Linked DNA regions of Homo sapiens. The protein of the gene in region 2 purifies or fractionates together with the protein of the main gene of each other region. This does not show direct contact. Each region holds a gene or a part of one and is shown on either strand. Other genes may lie near its edges.

Region 1 (3,500 bases), on a different chromosome or scaffold from region 2:
TTCAGCCTGAACAACAGAGTGAGACCTTGTCTCGAAACAAAACAAAAAAGTTAGGGGAAACCTGGGCTTTGAGGTCAGACAGATACAAATTTGCATCTTGGTTACACCACTCTGGCTGTTCTGAGGAAAATCAAATAGAAGAAGTGGGGAATGAGGTGTGAAGTTGGTTAGGAGACTGTTATAGTAAAGGAGAGTAATAATGGTAAACATAGACGAGGATGGCAACAGAGGAAGAGAGTCATTTTTTAATGTATTTTCGAGGTAGAACTGACAGGACTGGTTTATGGATTGGATGTTGGGAGAGAGACGGGGAAGGGCAGGAAGGGACTTAAGGATGACTTCTAGGTTTTTAGCCCAAGCAATTGGGTGAATGGTAGAAACAGAAAGAGGTAGATATGGGAGCAAATAAGGGGCAGAGAATCAGTTTTGTTTGGATAAACTCAAATGCTTATTACATATGTAAGTAGAAATGTTAAGTAGGCAGTTGTATATACTAGTTAGAAGAGGCTGAACTAGAGATAAATTGGAGAATCGTCATCACATAGTTAATATTTAAAAGTGAAAGATTGAATGTAAAGACCTAGGAACTTGATATTGATAGGAAAAAGATCCAAGACTGAGTCTTGGGATATTCCACAATATTTAGAGCTTGGGAAGAAGAGGAAGATCCAACAAAGAAACTGAAAAGGCACAGTTGATGAGATAAAAGGAAAACCAGGTGAGTATATTAAGTGTTTGTAGAAGGAGGGAGAGAATAACTGTGTCGGATGCTGCAGAGAGATCAAGTAAGATGAGGACCAAGAAATGACCATTGGAATTGGCATGATAGAGGTGACCTTGACAAAATAAATATCTGAAAATAAATGGGATATAAAAATCATATATAAGTTGGGGAAAGGATGAGAGGTGACAAAGTAGAGAAAGCAAGATAACTCTTTTGAGGAGCTTTGCTGTATAGGAGAGCAGAGAAATGGAGTAATAGGTAGTAGTGAATGTGGCATTGGGAATGTTTTTAAAGGCTGGATAATGGAGTATGCTTGTGACATCCACGAGAGAAAAAAAGTGACACAGAAGAGAGACAGGATAACTGAAAGAAAGAGTATCTTTTCAGAAGCAAGAGGGGATGGGAACTAGTGCCCAAGGTTGGCCTTGATAGGAATAGATATTTCATGTATTAAACAGGCATCAAGGCAGAGTATATTATTACAAGTATTGGTGAATTTGTGGATTCATTTGGTAGTTAAAAGATGAGGTAATAGTTCTGATTGCCTCGGTTTACCATTAAAGTAAGAAATCATGTCATTATCTGAGGAGAGGGGCTTTAAAATTTTGAATGATTTTTTAAACTAAGAAATGAGATTTAAAGAAGTGCTTTCTCCTAGTGGCTTGCTTCAGGCAGTGTTTCCAGTTCACCCTGGGAATGCAGTCATTTTGCTCTGCCTTAGTTGTACTTAGGTGGACAAATGTGAGAAGACTAATTTATTCAGATAGCCTAAGCCCTGTAGCACGGCACACAAGGCCCTGGAGAAGCTGGCGCCTGCCTTCCAATCCTATTCTGTCACGCTCCCCTTTTATCTCCTCCCTGCTTCTCCTTGCACCCAGTTCTCTAAAATCATTATCCTGCCGACTTTCACATCACAGCACCTTTGTACATAATGTGCCCTCTGCCTAGAATGCTCTAACCAACCTCTTTTATTTTCTGGTTAAACTTGTTATCTATACTCCTCAGTTTAGCTGTGACCTCTGGGGAGCTTTCTCTGACCTCCTCATTCATGTTCAAGTGCTTTCTTTGAACCTTGCCTCATTATATTAACATTATATGTGTCTTTTTCTCCCTACCGAATTATGTGCTTTTTGAATACAGGCCTGGCACCTAGTATCCTCTTGATAAATATCTGCAGAACTGAAATGGCTATGATGTTTTTACTTAATTTTTACTTATAAAACCATGTAGCCAGGTGAGTAATAGTGGCAATCTCTATAGTAAGAAACACTGGTGATCACTACTTTTTATTAGGTCTCACATAATCTGTAGAATTATTTATTTGATTCCAATGATGTGATACAATAGATACTGAATAACCTTCTCTCTTCCTTTCTTTTCTTTCCCAGTGTGAAGAGTGGCCAGATTCGAAATCTGGAGTCTGCCCGTGTCTCAATGGTTGGCCAAGTCAAACAGTAGGTCTTACTCTTCCCCCTTGGTCTGGTTAGAGGCGGAAACATGGTGAGGGAATTACAGATTGCTTCTTTTGTCTTACACCAATTCTACCATTCCGGTAAATGCCTTTATTATTTTAAATAATTTTAAAGGTGAGTTCAGTTGGGACAGACATAGATTTTCTTTCGCCTGCCTTCCTTTCTCTCCTTCCTTTCCTTCCCTTTCTTTTTTTTCCTCCTCATTTAATACTGGATTACCTTAGCAAAACTCTGCGTGTTAAAAAGCAAATCCCAGAGCATAGACATTACAAATTATGTTAACCTTAGTGATAGCAGCTGAGTTTCATTCTAGTAACAGTCTCCTTCTAAGCCAAACCTGGCTGTGAGGGAATTATAATAAAAAAGCTCTGGCATAGCCTGAGTGAAAGCCAGATTCTAAGAGTGAGCTAAGATTATTTAGCCCAATTGATCTTTCCTGATAGAATTACATGGCATTCTGGGTATTGCTGTATAGTCACAAAATAAACTTTAGATGAATTGAGAAAATGTTGCCCAACAGAACAGACAGAAGTTAGATGAAAATGATAATGGCTTTGAGTGCTTACTATTTGCCAGGCACTGTGCAAGGTATTTTATATGCACTGTCTCATTTTTAAAACCTTATATTATGGAAAAATTTTGCACATATAAAAGAAGAGTGATACAGTGGATGGACCCCAGTGTTCCCATTGTCCATTTTCAATGGTTATTAACCCATAACCATGTCTCATTTGTTTCATCTGTGCCCCTATGTATTTCCCCTAGTCACAAAATATTTTGAAGCAAATTCCAAACAAATATAATTTCCTCTGCAAGATTTTCATATGATCTAAAAATAAGGGCTCTTTAAACATCATCACGATGACATTATTACACGTAAAAAAATTGGCAATTCTTTAATATCATCAAATATCTAATCAATATTTACATTTCTGATTGTCTCATAAATAATTTTTTACAATTAAAGTCAAAATCAAAATAAGTAGATAGCAATTGGTTGATCCACCTCTCATGCATCTTTTAATCTAAGGTTCCACTTCTGTCTCCCTCTTTTTTTTGATTCCTTGCAATTTATTTCTTGAGGAAACCTTGTTTGCCCCATAGAATTTCCCATGATCTGGATTTGCTGATTGAATTCTCAGGCCATAATTTAACATATTCCTTTGTTCCTTATATTCTGTGTAAATAGTTAAATCTAGAAGCTTCATCGGGTTCAGGTGTTTTGTTTGCAAGAATACTTGATAGGTGATGTTGCGTACTGCCATCAGGAAGTACATAATGTCTGGTTGTCTTTTTTTTTTTTT
Region 2 (3,500 bases):
CCTTATAACCTGGAAAAGTTTGTGAGGGCTAAGCCTCAGTGTCAGGGAGAATTGTTTAGAGCTGCCCACTCCTGTGCTCCCCCTGTCCCCATCACCCTCTCTTCTGGAGTCTGAGGACTGAGCCAGTTACGCCACTGCAGGATGTTCAATCTGGTCTGGCCGTCTGGGTGGCCCTGGAACTTGAGCAGACACAGGTGCAGGCAGTGGTGACTCTACAGGCCCTGCTATTCCGGGCCCTTTTGCAACGTTGTGGCAACAATAAAATTTTGACGTAGCCATCCTCCATTTGGAAGTCTGGTGGCTGGTTTGCCGTGGAAATGACCCTGTTTTTATTTCCAGAATTACCTCTGGGTTTAGAGAAGTGGTTTTTAAACGAGTGTGGGTAAAAAAAATTACCTGAGGTACTTGTCAGAATCGCAGACTTCTAGGTCCCACCCAGCTCTCATCAATCAGTTTAGTGAGGGTGGTGCCCAGGACTCTGATTTTAAACATACCCCTAGAAAGATTCTGATACAGGTAGAGGTGAGAAGCCCTGGTTTAGAAGCAGCTCGGCCTCCCTTCATGGTGGGACCAGGGCCAGCAGGGAATGTCAGGGCCACCCCTGACCTTCACTGTGACTCTGCTGCAGAGGGTGGCCTGGAGGAGATGGTGGAGGAGCTCAACAGCGGGAAGGTGATGTACGCCTTCTGCAGAGTGAAGGACCCCAACTCTGGACTGCCCAAATTTGTCCTCATCAACTGGGTATGTGGAGCCTGTTTCATCTAGGTGTGACCCAGGAAACCCCATTGTCTTCTTTCCTGTTTTGACTTGACTTCAGGAACAAAGTGTTTTACTGGCATGACTTAGTAGATCAATAGAACAGCTCTGAGCTGGTGAATGAGCAGAATAGTTGACAGATTCATTGTGGCCCAAAGAATAACTGTGGCTTTGCTATGCAGAATTCACCTTCCAAGCCTAGAGTTCTTCCTGCAAAATGGATTAAAAGCAGTCACAGGGAGTCCTTGCTCCGTGCTCTTGAGGGTGGTTGTTCTGATGGAGTAGAGAGCCTGAGGGAGTGTTTAGGAGCCTGGGAGTACAGGGACAGGGCCTCCTTGATCCCTTGGTGGGGATCAAGAAAACTCTTGAAGGCTGGGTGGGGTGGCTCACACCTGTCATCCTAGAACTTTGGGAGGCCGAGGTGGGTGGACTGCCTGAGCTCAGGAGTTTGAGACCAGCCTGGGCAACATGGTGAAACCCCATCTCTACTAAAATACAAAAAATTAGCTGGGCATGGCAGCGTGCACCTGTAGTCCCAGCTACTCAGGAGGCTGAGGCAAGAGAATTGCTTGAACCCAGGAGGCAGAAGTTGCAGTGAGCCAAGATTGCGCCACTGTACTCCAGCCTGGGCCACAGAGCAAGACTCCATCTCCAAAAAAAAAAAAAAAAAGAAAATTCATGAAATGCCCCCACAGCGAAAGCCGGTAGCCATCCTGCCCAGGGAGAATCCATGAGCCCCTTGGAGGCATGGGAACTTACCTCACCCATGTGATGCAGTCAGAAGAATAGGTTCTGCTTTGGGGGTTGCAGTTTTCTCTTTTCTGGGACACAGGGTAGATGTTGGGTCCCCAGGGAAGGGAAGTGGCTTTGGGGGAGGCCTGGGTCAACCTGGGCATCCTTGTGTTGCAGACAGGCGAGGGCGTGAACGATGTGCGGAAGGGAGCCTGTGCCAGCCACGTCAGCACCATGGCCAGCTTCCTGAAGGTAAGGCCAGGTGAGGCCCGCTTCACTGGGAACAGGCCTCACAGGCTTGAGGTCTCGCAGGTTCCTGGGTGCGAGCAAGTGGGAATCAGAACTGGAGTTGGGAGTGTGCTCATAGCTAATGCTCTCTGCCTGCCTTTGAGGGCATGACCAGAGGCTGCTTCACTCTCGGTCAGTGAGTGCATGGGAGGTCAGGATGTTGCCAGGGCCACCTACAGGCCTGCCTCAGTGGGGCAGGATAAAGGACTATGCTGGAGCTGGTGCCGTGAGAAGGGTGGGCCCTGGTTCTGTTTTGTTTTATGATCCCTCTAAACAGTTTAGTAATACCGTCAGGATTTGGAGGAAGGGGAGAGTGCCCACCATCTTAGCACGCATGTGCCCTTTTGATGCATTCCTTTCCAGCCCCCTCTACATGGAGTTATGTCAGTCCTATAATAGAACCTTTTTAAATTTTAAAAACTATTTGTAACAAAAGCATTTGTTGGTCACTTGTCAGGTAACTTTTTGCATTTCTCTGGCAAAGGAGACTCAGAATTTTGATTTCTCGTTCTGCCAACATTTCTTCAGCTATACCTCAGTTTCCATCTAGGAGCTGATAAGAGAATTCCCAGCTTATCGATATACAGGTTTGAGTATCCTTTATCTGAAATGCTTAGGACCAGAAATGTTTTGGATTTTTTCAGATTTGGGAATGTTTTCAGTTCAGCATCCAAAATCCGAAATTCTCCAGAATCTGAATTTTTTTTTTTTTTTTTTGAGACTGAGTCTCGCTCCGTTGCCCAGGCTGGAGTGCAGTGGCGTGATCTTGGCTCACTGCAAGCTCCGCCTCCCGGGTTCACACCATTCTTCTGCCTCAGCCTCCCGATTAGCTGGGACTGCAGGCACCCGCCACCACGCCCAGCTAATTTTTTGTATTTTTAGTAGAGACGGGGTTTCACTGTGTTAGCCAGGATGGTCTCGATCTCCTGACCTCGTGATTTGCCCGCCTTGGCCTCCCAAAGTGCTAGGATTACAGGCGTGAACCACCACGCCCAGCCCAGAATCTGAGATTTTTTGAGTGCTGACATAATGCTTAAAGGAAATGTTCATTGGAGCAGTTCAGATTTTGGAATTTTAGGTAAGGGATGCTCAACCTGTATAGCAACAGTGAATGACGTCATGGGTCTGGCTTCTTATGAAGAAATCATTGGCTTACTTTTTGTAGAAAACATGCATGGCATTCTTTTATCAGAGTTTTTTTTAATTGTTTTGTTTTTTGTTTGTTTGTTTGTTTTGAGACAGTCTCACTCTGTCACCCAGGCTGGAACGCAGTGGCACGATCTCGGCTCACTGCAACCTCTGCCTCCCAGGTTCAAGTGATTTTCCTGCCTCAGCCTCCTGAGTAGTTGGGATTACAGGTGCCTGCCACCATGCCCGGCTAAGTTTTCTATTTTTAGTAGAGATGGTGTTTCCCTGTGTTGGCCAGGCTGGTCTGGAATCCCTGAGCTCAAGTGATCTGCCCTCTTCAGCTTCCCAAAGTGCTGGGATTACAGGCGAGAGCCACCGCACCTGGCCCAGAGTTTTTATAAATTGATATATAATAGTTGTACATATTTTTTGCATACATGTCATATTTTGATACCTGTATACAATGTATACGATGAATCAGGGTAATTAGCATGTTCATCACCTCAAACATTTATCTTTTCTTTGTGTTGGGAACATTACAATTTTTCTCTTCTAGCTAATTTGAAATACACAAAATTATTGTTAACTATAATTTC
Region 3 (3,500 bases), on a different chromosome or scaffold from region 2:
AGACCAACCAGTGAGACCTATGGGTCAACCCTGGTTTGAATCTTGTATTCTGGACAGTGAGTTCAGGGCTGTAAACCAGCCGCAGTCTTAGAGATTAGGTTGGGTGACTGAGCACATGCTGCAATATCACAACAAGTGGGAATTACAGATTTGGCAGGAATAAAGAGAAAAGCCTTCATGACCTCCTCCTGTGTTTACAAGACTCCTCCGAGTCTCCTACCTTCAGCGTTCATGGAAATCTCCCATTCCTCTGGCTGGATGAGAATTTGCTAAATTCCTCTGCCTCAGTGCAAGATAATTTTGTTTACAACTATAGCTCACTTTTATGTTTTCCAGTCAAATCTCATGAGACCAGCAGGATGAACAGGTAACAGAGGTCAAAGAGAAAGAATGAATGCCCACCTATGGATGGAGGCAGTTTAGAGAAATATGCTTGTCCAAAGTCACAATTAACTGCACTGACACAGAGAAGCAGATATTGCACTTTTGCTCAACTAAATACCACTTTGATGACTAAGAACGGGCCCTCTGGGATCAGACAAAGGTCAGTAACTCTTACCTCAGTAAAACGGCATTATTTTTAGCTTTCTCCTCTACTCCACCAGGGGGAATATCAGTGAAGTTAGTCAGATCATTCCCACTACTGTAATAGTCACCATTTCCTATAAGTAAGAAAATCAACAGATCCCTCATTCAATCATCCTATAATTCTTGAGTATCTACTGCATGCCAAACTCTATGGTTAGGCAAGGGAAATACATTGGAGAACGAGCAATGGTTCCTGCCCTAACTTACAAACTAGTGAGTACGCTGGACACTGATCTATAAAAACACACCGATAAATGTAGCTAATGCTACTGTTGAAATAGAGGAGTGGTGCGTCATGAAATGAGGGTATGTACCAGGAGGGTTGGTCTAATCAGGGAGTTCAGGAAAGAACTTTCCTAAGGAAGCGACAACTGAATTGAGATCTGAAGGAGAGGCCAGGTGGGCTAGAAAAAGAGGGCTGGGAAGAACAGTTTACACAAAGGAACAGCCTGTGCAAAGGCTCTTTGGAGAGGTTATCCCCACTGTAGATGAAGTAAGAGCCACTGTAGCTGACTCAGGGAAAGCCAGGGGGAAGTCGGTGCAGGATGAGGACTGGCAGAATAGACCTGACAGTGCTTTGTAGATCCCATGAGGAAGTTTTTTCTTTATTCTAAGAGCCACTGAAAGTATGTTTCTGAGTGTGTGTGTTTAATTAAAGTACAATTTATATACAATAAAACAACCAGTTTTTAAATGTTCATTTAGATGAGTTTTAATAATTTTAAATACCCACAAGATCACCATCCAAAACAAGATACAGAACATCTCCATCACCCCAAAAGTTTCCCGTAGGCTCCTTCCTAGCTATCCCACCCCACCTGCTCCAAGGCAATCACTTTCTGACTTCAATTTCCACAGAGAAGAACTTTTGTCTACTGTAGAACTTTCTACAAATGGACTCATACAGTATGTACACTCCTGTCTTTATTTTGCTGAACTGTGTTTTAAAGATGCATCCACATTCTTGTGTATATCATTTATTCCATTTTATAGCTGAGTATTCCATTGTACAAATAGTCAACAATTTGTTTATTCATCCATGTGTTTTTGAACATTTGTTTTCTGGTTTTGGCCGTTATAAATCAGGTTACCATGTCTGCTCCTGTAAAAGTCTTTTGGTGGACATATGTGTCTTAATTGATGTTGGGTAATTGCGAAGGAGTGGGTATCTGTGTTTTTTTAAACATTTTTTGTATATTTATAAATCAGAGTATGACAGTACTGGAAAAGATCTTAGAGCCTTTTTTTTTTTTTTTTTTTTTTTTTTTTGAGACAGAGTCTCACTCTGTTACCCAAGCTGGAGTGCAGTGGCGCGACCTCGGGTCACTGCAAACTTTGCCTTCCAGGTTCAAGTGATTCTCCTGCCTCAGCCTCCTGAGTAGCTGGGATTACAGGTGTGTGCCACCATGCCCGGCTAATTTTTATATTTTTAGCAGAGATGGGGTTTCACCATGTTAATCAGGCTCATCTCAAACTCCTGACCTCGGGAGCCACCTGCCTCGGCCTCCAGGTCTTAGAGCTTTTTAACTCAATTTCCTATCTATTAAGAGGCCCCTCAAAATAGAAATTTAATTAGGATGCCTGAGAAAATGTCTTACCTGTTAAAACAGTGATGATTGAGTCATCCTTGCTGGCAGCTTTAAGTGCACGCATAATTTCATGATACATCTGTGTAATGGGAAGACAAGGAAAAGAAAAGAACTCTGAACACAGGAATCATCAATCAATGGACTCAACAAATGTCAGGCTGCAAGCTTGCTCTCAGCAAAGTGCCTAACATTTATTTTGGTTGTATTTTATAACCAAAAAGGTGGACCAACATAACTGAAGGAATTTTTATTCCTTTCACAGTTACCTGGTGCATATTATGTACCTGGTGCTATGGCAGGAGCTGCAGGCTATAAACCACTTTTTTTCCAAAAGGGACCAAGAAAGAAATAGTCCTTGAGCTTTTGGAATTAACAGAGGACTTAACATGTTCAATTTGGAATTAACATGTTCAAATGAGGAGGGGGTTGGAAAGTACAAAGTAGCAGGGAACTCAGAGGAGGTGCTGAGGCTTATCTAGTGTGGGCAGAGTGGGAGGTGGTCAGAGAAAACTTTCTACAAAGCAACGTCTCTGTTGTGACCTCAAGGAAGCCCCTGGCAGTCTGGGAAGTGTTAGTGACTGCCAAAAGGCTGGAATTTTCAAGACACTGTAATGGTATTCAAGGAAGGTGGCTCAAAATTTTAAATCAGCAACATTTCTGAAAATCTTGGACAAGCAGCTATATAGCTTTTAATGCATTTAAAACAGGTGCAATTTCAACCTTAGATGAGATTTCAGTGTGGGAAAGAAATGAGGAAGAGGGCTGATACTTATAGATACAAATATACTGGAAAAGACACATGGACTTTACATAAAACAGCCTGCCCTCCGTATCCACGGGTTCCACATCCATGGACAACCAATCACAGATCAAAAATACCTGGAAAAGAATTCTGTATCTATACTGAACATGTACAGGCTTTTTCTCTTATCATTAGTCCCTAAACAATACAGTATAACAACAATTTAATATAGCATTTACATTGTATTCAGTATTATAATAACTCTAGAGATGATTTAAAGTATATGGGAGTGTATATAGAGGTTATATGCAAATATTATGCCTTTTTATGGGGGACTTCAGGTTCCGCGGATTTTGTTGTCCACACGGAGGTCCTGGAACCAATCCCCATCGGATACCAAGGGATGACTGTACATGAATAAGCGTTTAAGCATTTCTCCTGAGGGAAGTGATAAGGAACTCATTCTATCATTATTATAGTTATGATAACACCACACAGCAGGGCGACTGGTGAGACCAGGATTAGGAGATGGATTATCAGGGTTCCTTCCTTCCAACTGGTGAGACCAGGATTAAGAGATG
Region 4 (3,500 bases), on a different chromosome or scaffold from region 2:
TTTCACTGTTCCTGAGTCATTTCCTGAGTGCATGAGTTGATTCTCTGAGGATTGGGTGGACTCCCCCTACCTGGGGCTCCCAGGCAAGGCCACATCTCAGGCACTGAGGGTCCTGACCTTGGGGCTATGTGTTCCCTCTAGCCTGAGGCCCTCCCAGGTAGGGCCAGGTGGCCATTTCCTTCATTTCCTCACCAGCACTCAAGCTAGGGCTTTACCCATGTCACAGAGCTAGGCACGCTCACACAGATGCATACCTGCATACATACAGACACATGGGGTACATGTACGAACACAGGTACTGACAGTAAACAGTTACAGGGGCCTACAGTGGCACATTCAGAAGCAAATGTGCCTGCAGTTGTACAGGTGCCCAGATATTCTAACACAGGGACACAACTGTAGATGTGAACACAAATAGGACCACATAGACACAGATAAGGCAGAGCCGTGAACATGGATGTGTGTACACACTGCACCAGTATGCAGACGGTGAGCACACGTGTACATGGATTCACGGAGACCCATCCCGCACCTTGTTTTTCTCGAGCTTCTGCCGCTGCCGTTCCTCCAGGGCTGCACGGCGTTGCTCGGCTTTAAGACGTTGCTCCTCCAGCCGGCGCCGGCGCTCCTGGAGCTGCTTCTCCCGCAGCGCCTTGGCCTTCTCCTCCTTCTCCAGCCACACTGCCTTCTTGGCCGCTGTGGACAAAGGAGCCCAGTGGCGTGTGTGAAGGGTTCTGCAGAAGGCCTGGGCCAAGGACATTTCCTCCAAGTGGCCAGCCCTGCTACCCATGCCCTGGGTGGGTCTTTCTCCCGCCTGCTTAGGTGGAGCTTTCAGTCTGAGACAACCCCCTCAAATTGAGAGGCTTACTGAAGACAGGACTCAGGAGAGGCCTATTTCTCCTCCATTGGCCTTATGGGCTCTCAGGGCTGAAGGAGAAATGAATGCTTGAGTGCAAGATCCCCATCTGACCTGGGGGGCCTACCAGACAGATGTCCACATACTGTGATTAAGAGCATGGGATTTGGGGTGGCAGGAGGCTTCTGGGTCTGAATGTCAGCTACTCTACTAGCTGTGTGGCTTAAGCAAATGATTTCATCTCTCTGAGCCTCTGTTTCCTCCTCAAAATGGGTTGAGGATTAAATTAGATGTGTGTCCTGCTCTTAGCACAGTGCACATAATTAAGTGTTGCAGAAGTGTTGGTTTTTTTTTTTTTTTTTTTTTTTTGAGACGGAGTTTTGCTCTTGTTGCCCAGACTGGAGTGCAATGGCACAATCTCGGCTCACCACAACCTCCGCCTCCCAGGTTCAAGCAGTTCTCCTATCTCAGTCTCCCGAGTAGCTGGGATTACAGGGATGTGCCACCATGCCTGGCTAATTTTTTGTATTTTTAGTAGAGACAGGGTTTCTCCACATTGGTCAGGCTAGTCTCAAACTCCTGACCTCAGGTGATTCGCCCGCCTCGGCCTCCCAAAGTGCTGGGATTACAGGCGTGAGCCACTGCGCCCCAGCCTGTTGGTGTTATTAATAGGATGCTGATGATGACGATGAAGAAGATGATGAGGCTTCCTGCTCACTCACCCAGGTACTTGGCCCGCTCTTCTCGCCGCTCCTTTGCCAGCTTGTGTCTCTCTCCTGCCTTCTTCACCTCTGAGCAGAGGGAACAAGAACAGACAGGTCAAAAGGCTGTCCCCAAAGAGGAGTCAGCCTCAGATCCCTCCCTCCGGGCCTCACCCCATCCTTTCTTTATCTCCTCTAGGGCAAACAGGACTCTTTCAGTTGGCATGATCCAGGGCCAGGACCCTGAGCCAAGAGGTTTAGGCCCAGGCCGGGGTCATTACACACACCTTGCTTGGTGGGAGGGCTGTCGGAGGCTGGCACTGCTGTTGGAGATGGCTGGCTGCTCCTTCGAGGAGGTCTGGCATCCCGTGGGCCCATGGCTGGTGGGGTGGGTCCTCTGCTCTTTGCTTCAGAGGAAGGGGACTCTTCCTGCGGGGGGGCTGGCCTAGGCCCGACCTGCCCTGAGGGGCTCTCTGGTTCCAGTGGGAGCTGCTTAGAGCTAGTGGCATTCTTCATGGCAGGAGGGGTGTCCGGGGGAGTGTCGGGGACCAGGGCTGACATTGGTGGTGGTGGGGGGGAAGGGTCACCTTCTGGAGAAGGTCTTGGCTCTGGGGGGGTCCTGGCGACCACAGCTGAAAGACCAACACAAGAGAGGAGAGAGGTCAGATTGCTCATCTGTGCCATCAGCCCCATATGTGGCCCTCTCCCTTGTTCAACCGACTTCTTCATTCACTTATGTTTGAGTTATTTCTATGTGCCGGGCCCTGTTCCAGATACTCATGATATAATGGTGAGAAAATAGCCATGATCCCTGCCTCTGTGGCGCTTACCCTCTAGCAGGGCAGACAGACAAATAGCTAGGCAACTACAGTAGAGAATAAATACTATGTCTGGGGCAGCAAAGCAGAGATAGTTAACCTATATGGGGAGGGCTTGCTGAAGAAGTAACAACCAAGCTGAGATCCGAAGGATAAGCTGGAGTCAGCAAAGCAAGGAGGAGAGGTGTTGGCAGAGAAGAGTATATGCGAAGGGGCAGAATGGAGCAGGGTGTGTTGGAAAAGCTGAGAACAAGCTTGTAGCACTTATTCGTGCACCAAATGCACTGATTGTTTCCATGTCTGCCTCCCTCTCCTTTCTGCTTTACTTCTGGGTGACTGTGCCCAACCCAAGGTCTGTTCACAGAGGGTGCCAGTGCTGGGCACATGGGACTGACCAAGAGGAAGGACGTAAGTATGGGCTCTAGTGGAATGCTTTGCTGTGAAGATTCCATTGGCAACAAGCTACGTCCACTTTATAATCTTTTTTCCCCAAGCCACACCGAAATTTCTGCTTTTAAGACATGACTATTGTAGGAATCCTGTAAAAGACATCGAAGTGAAGTAAGGGAGCCACACGATTTGACATATACACATGTGGGGCAATTGAGAGACAGGCTTCAGAGTCAGTCAGATGAGGAAGATGGGAAGAGAGGGCTTGTTTCCCCAGCAGACAACCATGGACAAGCCAGTCAACCTCTCTCAGCCTCAGGTTTTTTTGTTTTGTTTTGTTTTGTTTCCCCCCAAGTCTACTTGCTGCTAGTGAATTTTTCAAGGGTCTAGTTAGTTCCTTTAAGTCTCTTTTTTTAAATTTTTATTTTTTAAGAGATAGGGTCTTGCTATGTGGCCCAGGCTGGATTCAAACTCCTGAGTTCAAGAGATCCTTCTGCCTCAGTCTCCCAAGTAGCTGGGATTACAGGCCCATGCCTGGCTCAGCCTCAGTTTTGATACCTGTAAAATGGGGATAACAAGCCCAAGCTAGTAGGGAATGTCAGCAAGGTGCCTGGCACTATCCACATGCCAGCCAGCAAACAGCACTCCCTGTTGGTCTTATGAAGCCTCCTGGTCTCCCAAACAGAAGCTTCTGTATGTTGAGCCCTGGTGCCATCTGCTGCTACCATCCAGGCA
Region 5 (3,500 bases), on a different chromosome or scaffold from region 2:
ATCCAAAGAAAGCAATAGTCGTTAAAGAAAAACCTACCCAAGGGGCCTTAAGAGGGCCCTAACTCTTGTGACACAGACACAGTAGAGGACAAGAACTCTCCTGTGCAATAGGTAGGAATGGCTCTGCCTTGCTCCCGGGGGCCTATCCCAGCAGCAGCATGGGCCCAGCCTGGGGCAGGTATCCCCCAGAATGCCTCTTGAATGAAAAGACCACGAAAACTGCATAGTGTGCCTTCTGGGCAGCAGGCCGGAAAGCGGTGCAGAAATTTAGATCACGACTATTATTATCATCAATAGTACTTTTCATGACTACCATTTATTGAGTACCTTTATTTTATTTTTGCCGACAGAGTCTCCCTTTGTCACCCAGGCTGGAGTGAAGTGGCGCAATCTCGGCTCACTGCAACCTCCACCTCCCAGGTTCAAGTGATTTATTGAGTGCCTTTTATACCCATGAGGCTGAGCATTGTGTGCTAGGTACTATGACTATTCCCATTTTACAGATCCTCACATAGTGCAAGGTCACCCCGCTCAGGAGCGCTTGAAGAGAATTCAAAGCCAGGTCTTTTCATCATGAAGGTAACGGTGGGTTGGAAAGACATGTGCTAGCAGTTTTATTCTTCCCAGCAGCAGGGCTGGAGCACAGATTCCGTGCATACATCACCAAAAGCCTGCACAATCGTCCCAGAAGGAAGTCACTGCACCTATTTTACAAATGTAAAAACTAAGGGGGGGCATTCGGCCAGTTGTCCAAGGCCATGAAGAACTTGAACCCAGATGTTTACCTCTAACACCCGAGTTCTTTCCACTCAACTTTGCTGCCCTGCCCTCTGTGTTCCCACAAAACAGGTGCCAGGGATAGGAGGAGAGGGAGGAAACTGGGGGCTGGAGAAGATAATGAAGCTAATTTGGGCAGCAGATCCATGGTTTGTTCTAGACCATTGGGCTCACCTGCTGGAGGCCCCTTAAGGGACTGAGAATGCCAGTAATGCCTACTAAGGGCGCAATCTACTCTTCCAAACTCAGCTGCTCAGCACAGTGACCCCTAGGCTTCTGGAGCCTGGCAAATCAAAGAGGGAGGTTTCAGGGCTGGCAGTACAGAGCCTGCAGAGCCATCACTCCAGGGGCACCATCTACCCAGAGCTTCCTGGGGTGAGAATGACTAAGGGCTGGCGGTGGCTTGCACTTCTTCAGTCGGGGCTGAATAAATGGTGAGATCAGAGAAGGGCCTGGGATGGCCCCAGTATCTCATATAAGGGGAAACCGGGGTCCAGAAGCCTAAGTGACCCATCCAAGGTCAGTCAGCTCCGTGGTGGAATCACAGGATCCCCCTATGTTTCTCCCAGACACAAGGGCATGTAGCCCAATTCCCACGCAGCCACTCCTTGCTGTGTGACCTCAGGCACATGCCTCCACCTCTCTGAATCTGCAGACTCCTCCAGGGGAAAACAAAAAACTAATGTAATTACCTGAAGGATTAGTATCCCAAATGTATAAATAAATCCCGCCAATCAATAAAAGACAAATAACCCAATATATCGAAAAACAGGCAAAGGACAAAAACTGGTAATTCACGGAAGAGGAAACTCAGATAGCCGATAAAGGTATGAAAAGCTGCTCAACCTCACTGGTGTGAACAAGCACCACTTTTGCACCTATTGGATTGGCAAAGACTGAAAAGTCTGATGATACGGAGTGTTAGCAAGAACAGAGAGCAAAGGGAACCCTGAGGATGTAAGTGCAAAGTTGAAAACACACAAACCCCAAGACCGTGGGACCCTGTGCAAGGAGGCAGCTGTAAGAAAGTCAACTGCTGGAAACATCCTAACAGTTCCCGGCACGAGCTTGAAAAAACAGGGGCATGTTCATCAATGCCATAGTAAGCGACAGTTAAAACGAACTGGAGCTAGCTGGATCGACATAGATCTCAAAAGTGCTTATTTATAGTTTTAAAACATTCACGACAATACAAGATTTTAGGGAATGTTAAAAAGGGAAAAACATTAAAAGGTCCATGGGCTGTGGTGGGAAGGGGATTGATGGCAAATGGGCGTGGGGGATCTTTCTGGGGATGATGGAAATGTTATAATACTGCATTGTGGTGACGGTTGCATAGCTCTGCAAATTTACTTTAAAAATAAGTGAATTGCACACTTACAATGGGTGAATTTTATGGTATGTAAATTATACCTCAAGAAAGCTGTTAAAAAAAATCCTATCTATTAGTCTATTTTTTATAAGTGCATGGGAATGATCAACATCAAATGCAGGATAGTGGTTTTATGGGGGAGGGGCAGCATCGGGGAGGGCGTCCGGGGGGTTTGCATCTGCGATGCTTTATTTCTTAAAAATAAAAACAAAAAAGTTTTGAAACAAATTGGCAAAATATAGAGATGTGAAGACTTGGAAGGTATATAGATATAGATAGCTATTTTATTCTATGTATCTATATATGTGCAGAATATTGTATTACTATATTGAAAATATACCCATTTGAAAGGGACCCAGTGCCCCGCTCAGGTTACCGAGGACACTTTGACCACTGTTATTCTTGCTGCCATAAATATTCCGACCATCCTGCTCCTCTTAACATTTAAAGATCTTGAGACAGAGCAGGCCAGCATCTCCAGGCTCCTGCTGCCGAGACACTAATGCTTCTGTACATCCCTCTCCAGTGCGGGAAATGGGGTGATCCAAATAAAACCCACAAATCCTACCTGGAGCTCTTCTTCCTCCCCCCAAGCTGAAGACAAGCTAGCTGGGGAGGGTCTCCCAGGATGTCACCCTCAAAAGCCCCTCTCCATTCATCCCCAAGCCCTCGGGCTCTAGTGCAGGAAAGATGCTGGCAGAGAAAGGCAGGAGCTCCCCAAATCTTCATCTCCCTGCTTCCAACAGAGGGCAGTGGCTCCAGGGAAAGGCTCTCCAAACAATATCATGGTTCATTGTCATCAGCCTCTCAGGATCTCACAGGCACCTGGAGCTTCTGGCCCTGCATTCTCCAGACCTGGCCTGTGGCTCTGCCCCTGGGCCCATGGATGATGTCTCTGCCTGCGGGTGACTGAGGCTGGGGCTGGAGAGGACGCCATTCTGATCATGGAGAAGGCACCATTTCAGAGGGAGCAGGTGGCCCAGCCCTGATGGGCAGCCCTGAACTCCGGGTGCAGTTCTCCAATGACATCTACAGCACCTGTGACCCTGTCCCTCACAGGCAAGTGAGTGATGAGCAGGTAGTGGCCGAGATGGCTGCAAATGGGGAGAGGGGTAGTGGGAAATTAGGGGGCGTAGTGAAGAGGACTCTCAAAAACTGACTTTATAGTCTATGGCGCAGTGGCTGGGGTGGGAATGTGTGTGGTGCTGCCCCCTAGAGGACATGCAGCAATCAATGCCTGGAGGCCTTTTGGGTGTCACAATTGGGAAGGGGGATAACTAGCTGGGTAGAAGCCAGGGAAGCTGCTAAACATCCTGCAATCCACAGGACAGCCCTGAAACAAAGAATGATC
Region 6 (3,500 bases), on a different chromosome or scaffold from region 2:
TGGCCATAGAGATCGACTACCGCATACACCTCTGGGGAGGAGAGGGAAGGTCAGAAGCCTGACAGCCAGGTGGTCTGGGCTGAGGGTGGCAGGCTGAAAGCCACATAGTCACCTTTACCCGGAGGCAGGCCCGAGCAGGCAGCGCCTTGGTCCTGGCCGTTGATGAAGTAGTGCAGGTCGCCCTTGGCAGTTCGCATCATGCCAATGCGTGCACCTGTGCCCAGCGCATCCAGGTCACACCCATAATTGTTGCGCATCGTGTTACCGTCTTGCATGATGGCTGTACCACTGGGGGGATGGCAGAAGGGGTGAGTCAGCCTGCCAACTTCAACTTCACATTGGCCCCTGCCCACTCCCTGTCTGTCAGAACCCTCCAATGTCTTGGGCTGGTGTCTTGATCTGGGTGTAAGGCCCAATCCTATCTCCTCTGTCCCTGGGATCCCCTTAGGAAAAAGCAAGAACTGCCTAAGATGAAGGAGGACTGAGCCCCTGTGGGCCTGGGCAGGACTTCCCAGAATTCAAGGGGAGGGGACAGGTAGATCCCCTAGGTCTGTCACTACCCACAGCCACCATAGGCCCAAACCTTGCTTCCCTGATCCCAGCCAGCTCCACTCAGCCCCAAGCTGGTCCCCAAAGCAGGAAGCCCAACCTCAGCATCCATGTGTCATAGTCAATGTCTGTCATGGTGTTGGGGAATTCCAGGTCTTCAGGCCGAATAGCAGTCACTCCTGGGAGGAGGCAGGGGTAAGTCAAGGCCGATCCCCAAGGCACAGACATCCAACAGCCCCCAACACACACAGACGGCCCTCACCAGCCTCAATGGAGCCTGACCAGCGGTCCACCATCTTCTGAATGACAATTTCAAACAGCTCTCCATCCCGCAGGGCCCTGCCAGGAGACTGGCGATCAGAGAGGCTCTACTTGCATGGCTGAGGCTGGGCAGGAGGAAGGTGGGGACATGAAAGTTGAGAGACTGACCGGTTGGAGATGACGATGGCGTCATTAAACTCGCTGCGACAGTTGTGGCGGAGGGCGGTGCGGCCCCCGTTAGTGATGACTGCGTTACTGCCGTGCAGCTGATGGAAGCGCAGGTCAGAGCCCCCGGCCCCTGAGGACGGAGAGCTTGGAGACACCTGGTTGTTCCCCTCAGGGAGTGGTTCAGGAACTGGAGCCACCTCTGTAAAAGTGGACATCACCCATCAGGTCTCTAGGTGTCTCTCAGACCTCCCAAGGCCACCCTAACCCCCAGCCCCAGCCCAGCCCGGCCCTCACCCACGTCGTCCACAATGGTGGCCTGGGCCGCCTGGCCATAGAGATCGACGACAGCATAGACGCCCGGGGGCACGTTCCAGGCAGCAGGGCCCTGAGTCATCCCATTGACAAAGAAGTGGAGAGTCCCGTCCTCCCGCCGTACCACGCCCACCGTGTCCCCTGCCTTGGAAGAAGGGGGTGCTGGAGTGAGGAGTCAGGCAGAGTTCCTGCCGGGGCTGGTCCTGCATCAGCCCCGCGGTGTTTGTGATGCCCGCTGCGGCCGCCAGGCGGCGCACCCACTTTCCCACCTTGAGGCGGTCCAGATTGTGCCCGTATTCATCCAGGATGGTCGTCCCATTGTGCATCACCCCATTCCCAGTCATCATCCAGGTCCCTGGGAGGACAAGGAGCAGGAGGGGACATGAGGGGAAATGCAGGGCTCCTCTCCTTGCCACAGCAGCGCCCACAGGACTCCCGAGCCCACAGTCCACCTTGCCTTTTCTTTGATGACTAGATTTCTTCCCTGAGCAGGACAAGAAAACTCTGCAGCTTCCAAGACAGCCACAGCCCTGCCCACGGGACACTCTCTAGCCACTGAATGAGTGGTCACAAGAGTGACAAGTGAAAAAGGAGCTGCAGAACAAGTGCCAGGGCTTTGGGGATAGCTTCCCCCCAAAACCCTATCCTGTCCCTGCCCTTCCTGGGAGCTCACCAGAGCGCAAGTTGGTCATGGTGGAGGGCAACTGGAGGTAGGCAGGGTTGTGGGTGGTGACACCAATTTCAATGGAGCCAGCCCATTTGTCCACCATCTTGTCGATGCGCACCTGGAACACCTCTCCATCCCGCAGGGCTCTGCTGCTCAGCACCACGCCGTGATTGAAGTCATCGGTGGCACTGAGGGCACAGCAAGTGGAGAGTCAGATCCCCAACACACGCTCTCAATGTGCCAAGGCTTAGCCCAGCAATGCCTGCCAACACTCACTGCCCCAAGCCAAAGAACTAAAGCTCAACCTCCAGGAAGCTGCCCCCGCCAGGCTCCCTCTGCCTTCCACTTCCTTGCCCCGCCCCCCCCCCCCCATTAGAATCCCTTCTTCAGGCTTCTCCCCACCCCATGGGCCATACTGGGGCCTCAGGGCAGTGCGTCCCTCGTGGGTGATGGCTGCCTTCTGCCCACAGTTGGGGTGGAAGAGCAGGCGCTCAGGTTCTGCCTGGGCGGCAGGGGCAGCACGGCGGAGAGCACCCTCGGGGGACAGCGCCCGCAGGATGGCGTTGTTTCGGCGGAGACGGTCACTGTGGTTGTTATTGTGGACGATGGTCACCTTCACTGCCATCCCGTACAAGTCCACCACACCATACACCACTGGGGGCGTCAAGGGGGTTGCCACTCCTGTGGCAGGAAGGTACGGGGGTGTGGGAGTGGACAGGGAGAATGAGGGGAGAAAGTCAAACACAGGGAGGCCAAGCACCAAAGAGAAGCAGGAGGATGAGGTACAGCCCCCAGTCCCAGCCCCACCGAAAGCCCCGGCCCAGAGGCTCTCTCTGGGCGGCCCTTACCCTGATCGATACCATTAATGAAGAAGTGTAGGGCAGAGTTGGACTTCCTTGTGAGGCCAATGTGGTCACCCTCCTAATCAAAGAAGACAAACAGTTTAGAGGAGTCCTGAGGCCTGCTCAGCACCCCACTCCACACAGGAACAACTCCAGAAGGTATTCGTGAGAGTCTCAGACCACCCTGGAGGACAGGTCCTGGGTCCTTGTTTTCCAGACATGACAATTTCCACATTTCGTCAATGCTCCACGTGAGTCAGGCACTGAGTTAAACCACCTCACAGACATTAGCTTCTACAAGTCTCAGCCTATGGAATAAGTACTACTCGTAGGCTCATTTTAGAGATTGCAGGAGGTGGGGGAGCAATCAAAGAGGATAAGCTTCTTGCCCCGGTTCGCTACTACAAATGGGAAAACAGTAAGAGGAATTCAACCATCTGACTCCAAAATCTGAGTGCTGAACTCTTGGGCAACTCAGGCTTCTAGGAAGGAACCTTTAGGTGGAAGATACAGGGACTGCCTCTAGGTCACATAGGAGACCCTGCTTGGTGCCCTGGCAGGGACACAGAGTACCTGTGGCTCTGCTGAAAGCGGCCCAGGGATCTGTGCCCCACCCTCACCTGCAACTCATCCAGACTGAATTCGCAGTACTCCCGGCGGGTGCCCTTGCCATTGGTCAGGATTCCACAGCCGCTCATCAT
Region 7 (3,500 bases), on a different chromosome or scaffold from region 2:
AGGCCAGAAGCGCACTGAAGACAGGTTTATTGACACTCCTGCTTCGGATCGAGCTACATGGGGTAAGGAGGGACAGTTGTGGAGAGCAGGAGGGCCCCGGGGTTCTGGGGAGCAGCAGAGAGGGAGACCCAGGGTTGCTGGTGCCACTGTGAGCACAGGCCTGCACCACACGCCTTCCCAGGAAGGCCTCCCCTCACCCAGCCAGGCCCTCCTGCTCCCTTCCCACATGCAGGGTGGGACGGGCCTGTGCATGGCCCCCAGATGAGGACCCAAGCTCCTGCAGGGGCGGTGGCCTTCAGTCAAGACAGCTGGGAGGCAGCAGATCCGTGATTAGGCTGGGACGCTGGCTCCCAGGCTCGGGTGGTGGTGCAGCGGCCTCTCCAGCCCCAGCCCCCAGGACCATTCAGACTGGTGGTGTCATGGATGAGGAGCACCTCTGCCTGGCCCAGACATGCTTGGAGCTTAGGATGGGGGCTCCTGGGCAGTGGGGAAGGGGCCCAGGGCAGGGGGGAGCCTCATACGAGTCTGGCTGGCACAAGGCTGAGCAGGAGCCCGGGGCTCACAGTGGCCGAGGCAGGGCTAGGACCAGGCCCAGGTGGGCGGGCAGCACTCAGCTGCTGTGGTAGATGCGGAGGCGCTGGGCGATGTCCTGGCGGCACAGCGGGCAGGTGCGCAGTGGCTGGCAGCACTGCTGGCAGCAGCAGACGTGGCCACAGTTGAGGAAGATCATCTGGGCCTGGGGAGGGAGAGCGGGAGCATGTGGCTGGCCCTACCGGGTTCCAGGAGTCCCAGGCCCGTCTTTTTTTTTTTTTTTTTTTTTTTTGAGACAGAGTCTCACTCTGTTGCCCAGGCTGGAGTGCAGTGGTGGGATCTCAGCTCACTGCAACCTCAGCCTCCCGGGTTTAAGTGATTCTCCTGCCTCAGCCTCCCAAGTAGCTGGGACTACAGGCGTGCACCACCATACCTGGCTAAATTTTTTGTATTTTTAGTAGAGATGGGGTTTCACCATGTTGGTCAGGCTAGTCTCGAACTCCTGACCCCAAGTGATCTGCCCGCCTCGGCCTCCCAAAGTGCTGGGATTACAGGCGTGAGCCACCATGCCGGCCCCCTTCATTATTCTTTAGCATCTTTACCATAAACGCCTGATAGTGGGGCCTTCGGGCATTTGACCACCACAGAAACAGAACAGGCACGGCCGAAACAGGTAACCTAGGCCTTCTGTTAGCAGTTTGCTGTCTATTTCTCTATAGTTTGTAAAAAATATAAATACCCATATAAATGCCCCAACTGATTCTTTCTTAAATAAAACTGGGGATTATATTCCTGCGCTCTGGACAGGCGACGGAGGCCTATTCCGCCGGCCCCTGCCGGAGGGCACGCAGGGTGTTCAGGCTTCTTTCTTGTTGATGCACTTGCCCAGGCCCTGAACTCCTCAGTCTACAAACAATCCCAACCCGGAGCAGCAGCCACTGACTCAGGACCACACTTTGCCTCAGCATCTCCTGCTTTCAGGAACTGATCCAAGCTCCGCTCAAAGCTGTCTGGAATGCCAAGGGCCCCAGAACAGGGATTATATTTGGAACCAATAGGTCCATCCATATCATGGCATGAGTCAGGTCAACGGGAGACCCTGGAATCATCAAACTGCAAACATGGCTGCTTTTCTAAGTAGGATCCCTCAGTGGAGGCAAAGGAGGATTTGTATTTCATTCACTGCTCTGTGTAATTTTTAGAGTAAGTGTTAATGAATTTTTAAAAGATGATTTTTTCTTTTTTTTGAGATGGAATCTCGATCTGTCTGCCAGGCTGGAGTGCAGTGGTGGGATCTTGGCTCACTGCAATCTCTGCCTCCCGGGTTCAAGCGATTCTCCTGCCTCAGCCTCCCAAGTATCTGGGCTTACAGGCGCCCACCACCACGCCTGGCTGATTTTTGTATTTTTAGTAGAGATGGAGTTTTACCATGTTGGCCAGGCTGGCCTCAAACTCCTGACCTCAGGTGATCCACCTGCCTTGGCCTCCAAAAGTGCTGGGATTACAGGCGTGAGCCACCATGCCTGGCCAAAAGATGATTTTCTAAAGCCTCTGCAGGGTAAATCATGTTGTTGATATTTCATGATTTGGGAAATTTTTTCCTAATGTATTTATTAAGTAGGAACAAAAAGAAAAAGGTCCGGAAAATGATGTGAGCGCAGCTCATATTTGGGTCATGGGACCAGGGGTCATCTTTATTTCCTGCCTTCTTTCTAGATGAGCACAGTCTACTTAGAGAACTGGAGAAAACACGTTCAGAGACAACCCTGTACCTGCAGAATTTGAGGAGGGTGGCCACAGGCAGGGCAGGCGGGTGGGGAGGGCCCCGGACTTACCTCCCGTTCCAGGCACACGACACACTCTGAGGCCTGCACCTCCAGCTCTGCAGGGGGAGCGGATGGCCTCACAGACTCAGGAGGCTCCTGGGGGGCCGTAGGGGTGACGACCTCACCCATTGGTGGTTTCAGCTCTGTGGGGACCAGACAGACAGACTGAGCCAGGGTCATCTCCGCTGACCCTAACCCCTGGGGGCTCATTGTGGCCCTGCCCATCCCCATGGTGAGTGAGCTGGAGGGTGGGGGAGCCTCTGCTCTCAGATCTGAGGGAAGTGCTCTCCTTGCCACACACTCTCTTCTTCTCTTCTCTGAGCCTCATTTCCCATCTGCAGAATGGGAGTGAAGTCTCTCTCTGCAGGGATGGCCGCAGCGCTTGTTAAGTGGGTCCTCTGATCTCTAATGTCCCCGGGACGCTTCATAGCCACCCTGCAAGTAGGGCTTGGCACTTTCAGAGATGAGACATTTGAGGCTCAGAGACGGGGAGTCACTCAACCCAGGGCCATGTGGCCATCTGGTGATGCAGCTGCAGATCCCTGGGGCAGGAGCTCTCAGTGAAGGGCCAGCTCTTGGCTTCTCCACCTGGTTGCCCAGGAGACAGGATGGGCTGCTGCCCATCAGGTGACCCAGGGGAGCAGAATGAGAGGCCCCCCGCAAGGCTGTTCCCCTGCCCCCAGCCCCACAGAGTCCCCAGCATGCTGGCTGCTCTGCCCTGGAGTCAGCATCCCCTGCTAAGACATCAGAAGCAGCCCTTACAAAATGCTAAGTCTCTTTTTTTTTTTTTTTTTGAGACAGTCTCGCTCTGTCACCCAGGCTGGAGTTCAGTGGCGCGATCTCGGCTCACTGCAACCTCTGCCTCCCAGGTTCAAGCAATTCTCCTTCCTCAGCCTCCCGAGTAGCTGGGATTACAGGTGCCCACTATCACGACAGGCTAATTTTTGTATCTTTAGTAGAGGTGGGGTTTCACCATGTTGGCCAGGCTGGTCTCAAGCTTTTGACTTCAGGTGATCTGCCCACCTCAGCCTCCCAGAGCGCTGGGATTACAGGCGTGAGCCAACGTGCCCGGCTGCTAAGTCTCTTTTTCTATCATGCAACGTGAGCCACCCACTTCCTTGACTCTATCCCTCGTTCCCTTCC

What was found.
Region 1: the proteins of DBNL (region 2) and PPME1 fractionate together in Homo sapiens (co-fractionation; one large-scale study listed by BioGRID). This does not show direct contact.
Region 3: the proteins of DBNL (region 2) and ECI2 purify together in Homo sapiens (affinity purification with mass spectrometry; 3 studies listed by BioGRID and IntAct, with this or other methods). This does not show direct contact.
Region 4: the proteins of DBNL (region 2) and MAP7D1 purify together in Homo sapiens (affinity purification with mass spectrometry; one large-scale study listed by BioGRID and IntAct). This does not show direct contact.
Region 5: the proteins of DBNL (region 2) and SH3PXD2B purify together in Homo sapiens (affinity purification with mass spectrometry; one large-scale study listed by BioGRID and IntAct). This does not show direct contact.
Region 6: the proteins of DBNL (region 2) and NEURL4 purify together in Homo sapiens (co-immunoprecipitation; 6 studies listed by BioGRID and IntAct, with this or other methods). This does not show direct contact.
Region 7: the proteins of DBNL (region 2) and LRSAM1 fractionate together in Homo sapiens (co-fractionation; one large-scale study listed by BioGRID). This does not show direct contact.

The regions. Positions count from the first base shown.
Region 1 is NC_000011.10:74,233,789-74,237,288, forward strand, and holds part of PPME1 (protein phosphatase methylesterase 1), read left to right. Parts: intron 1-2,112; coding exon 2,113-2,178; intron 2,179-3,500. UniProt on the Homo sapiens protein: Demethylates proteins that have been reversibly carboxymethylated. Demethylates PPP2CB (in vitro) and PPP2CA. Binding to PPP2CA displaces the manganese ion and inactivates the enzyme.
Region 2 is NC_000007.14:44,051,202-44,054,701, forward strand, and holds part of DBNL (drebrin-like protein), read left to right. Parts: intron 1-564; exon of another isoform or gene 565-628; coding exon 629-741; intron 742-1,665; coding exon 1,666-1,740; intron 1,741-3,500. UniProt on the Homo sapiens protein: Adapter protein that binds F-actin and DNM1, and thereby plays a role in receptor-mediated endocytosis.
Region 3 is NC_000006.12:4,125,576-4,129,075, forward strand, and holds part of ECI2 (enoyl-CoA delta isomerase 2), read right to left. Parts: intron 2,257-3,500; coding exon 2,187-2,256; intron 663-2,186; coding exon 560-662; intron 545-559; exon of another isoform or gene 1-544. UniProt on the Homo sapiens protein: Able to isomerize both 3-cis and 3-trans double bonds into the 2-trans form in a range of enoyl-CoA species. Has a preference for 3-trans substrates.
Region 4 is NC_000001.11:36,169,660-36,173,159, reverse strand, and holds part of MAP7D1 (MAP7 domain-containing protein 1), read right to left. Parts: intron 2,190-3,500; coding exon 1,845-2,189; intron 1,648-1,844; coding exon 1,579-1,647; intron 697-1,578; coding exon 533-696; intron 1-532. UniProt on the Homo sapiens protein: Microtubule-stabilizing protein involved in the control of cell motility and neurite outgrowth. Facilitate microtubule stabilization through the maintenance of acetylated stable microtubules.
Region 5 is NC_000005.10:172,448,026-172,451,525, forward strand, and holds part of SH3PXD2B (SH3 and PX domain-containing protein 2B), read right to left. Parts: intron 1-3,500. UniProt on the Homo sapiens protein: Adapter protein involved in invadopodia and podosome formation and extracellular matrix degradation. Binds matrix metalloproteinases (ADAMs), NADPH oxidases (NOXs) and phosphoinositides.
Region 6 is NC_000017.11:7,322,836-7,326,335, forward strand, and holds part of NEURL4 (neuralized-like protein 4), read right to left. Parts: coding exon 3,420-3,500; intron 2,879-3,419; coding exon 2,806-2,878; intron 2,639-2,805; coding exon 2,374-2,638; intron 2,146-2,373; coding exon 1,964-2,145; intron 1,646-1,963; coding exon 1,560-1,645; intron 1,436-1,559; coding exon 1,273-1,435; intron 1,178-1,272; coding exon 979-1,177; intron 889-978; coding exon 812-888; intron 729-811; coding exon 650-728; intron 289-649; coding exon 113-288; intron 32-112; coding exon 1-31. UniProt on the Homo sapiens protein: Promotes CCP110 ubiquitination and proteasome-dependent degradation. By counteracting accumulation of CP110, maintains normal centriolar homeostasis and preventing formation of ectopic microtubular organizing centers.
Region 7 is NC_000009.12:127,500,010-127,503,509, reverse strand, and holds the end of LRSAM1 (E3 ubiquitin-protein ligase LRSAM1), read right to left. Parts: intron 2,501-3,500; coding exon 2,367-2,500; intron 737-2,366; coding exon 611-736; 3' UTR 11-610; downstream 1-10.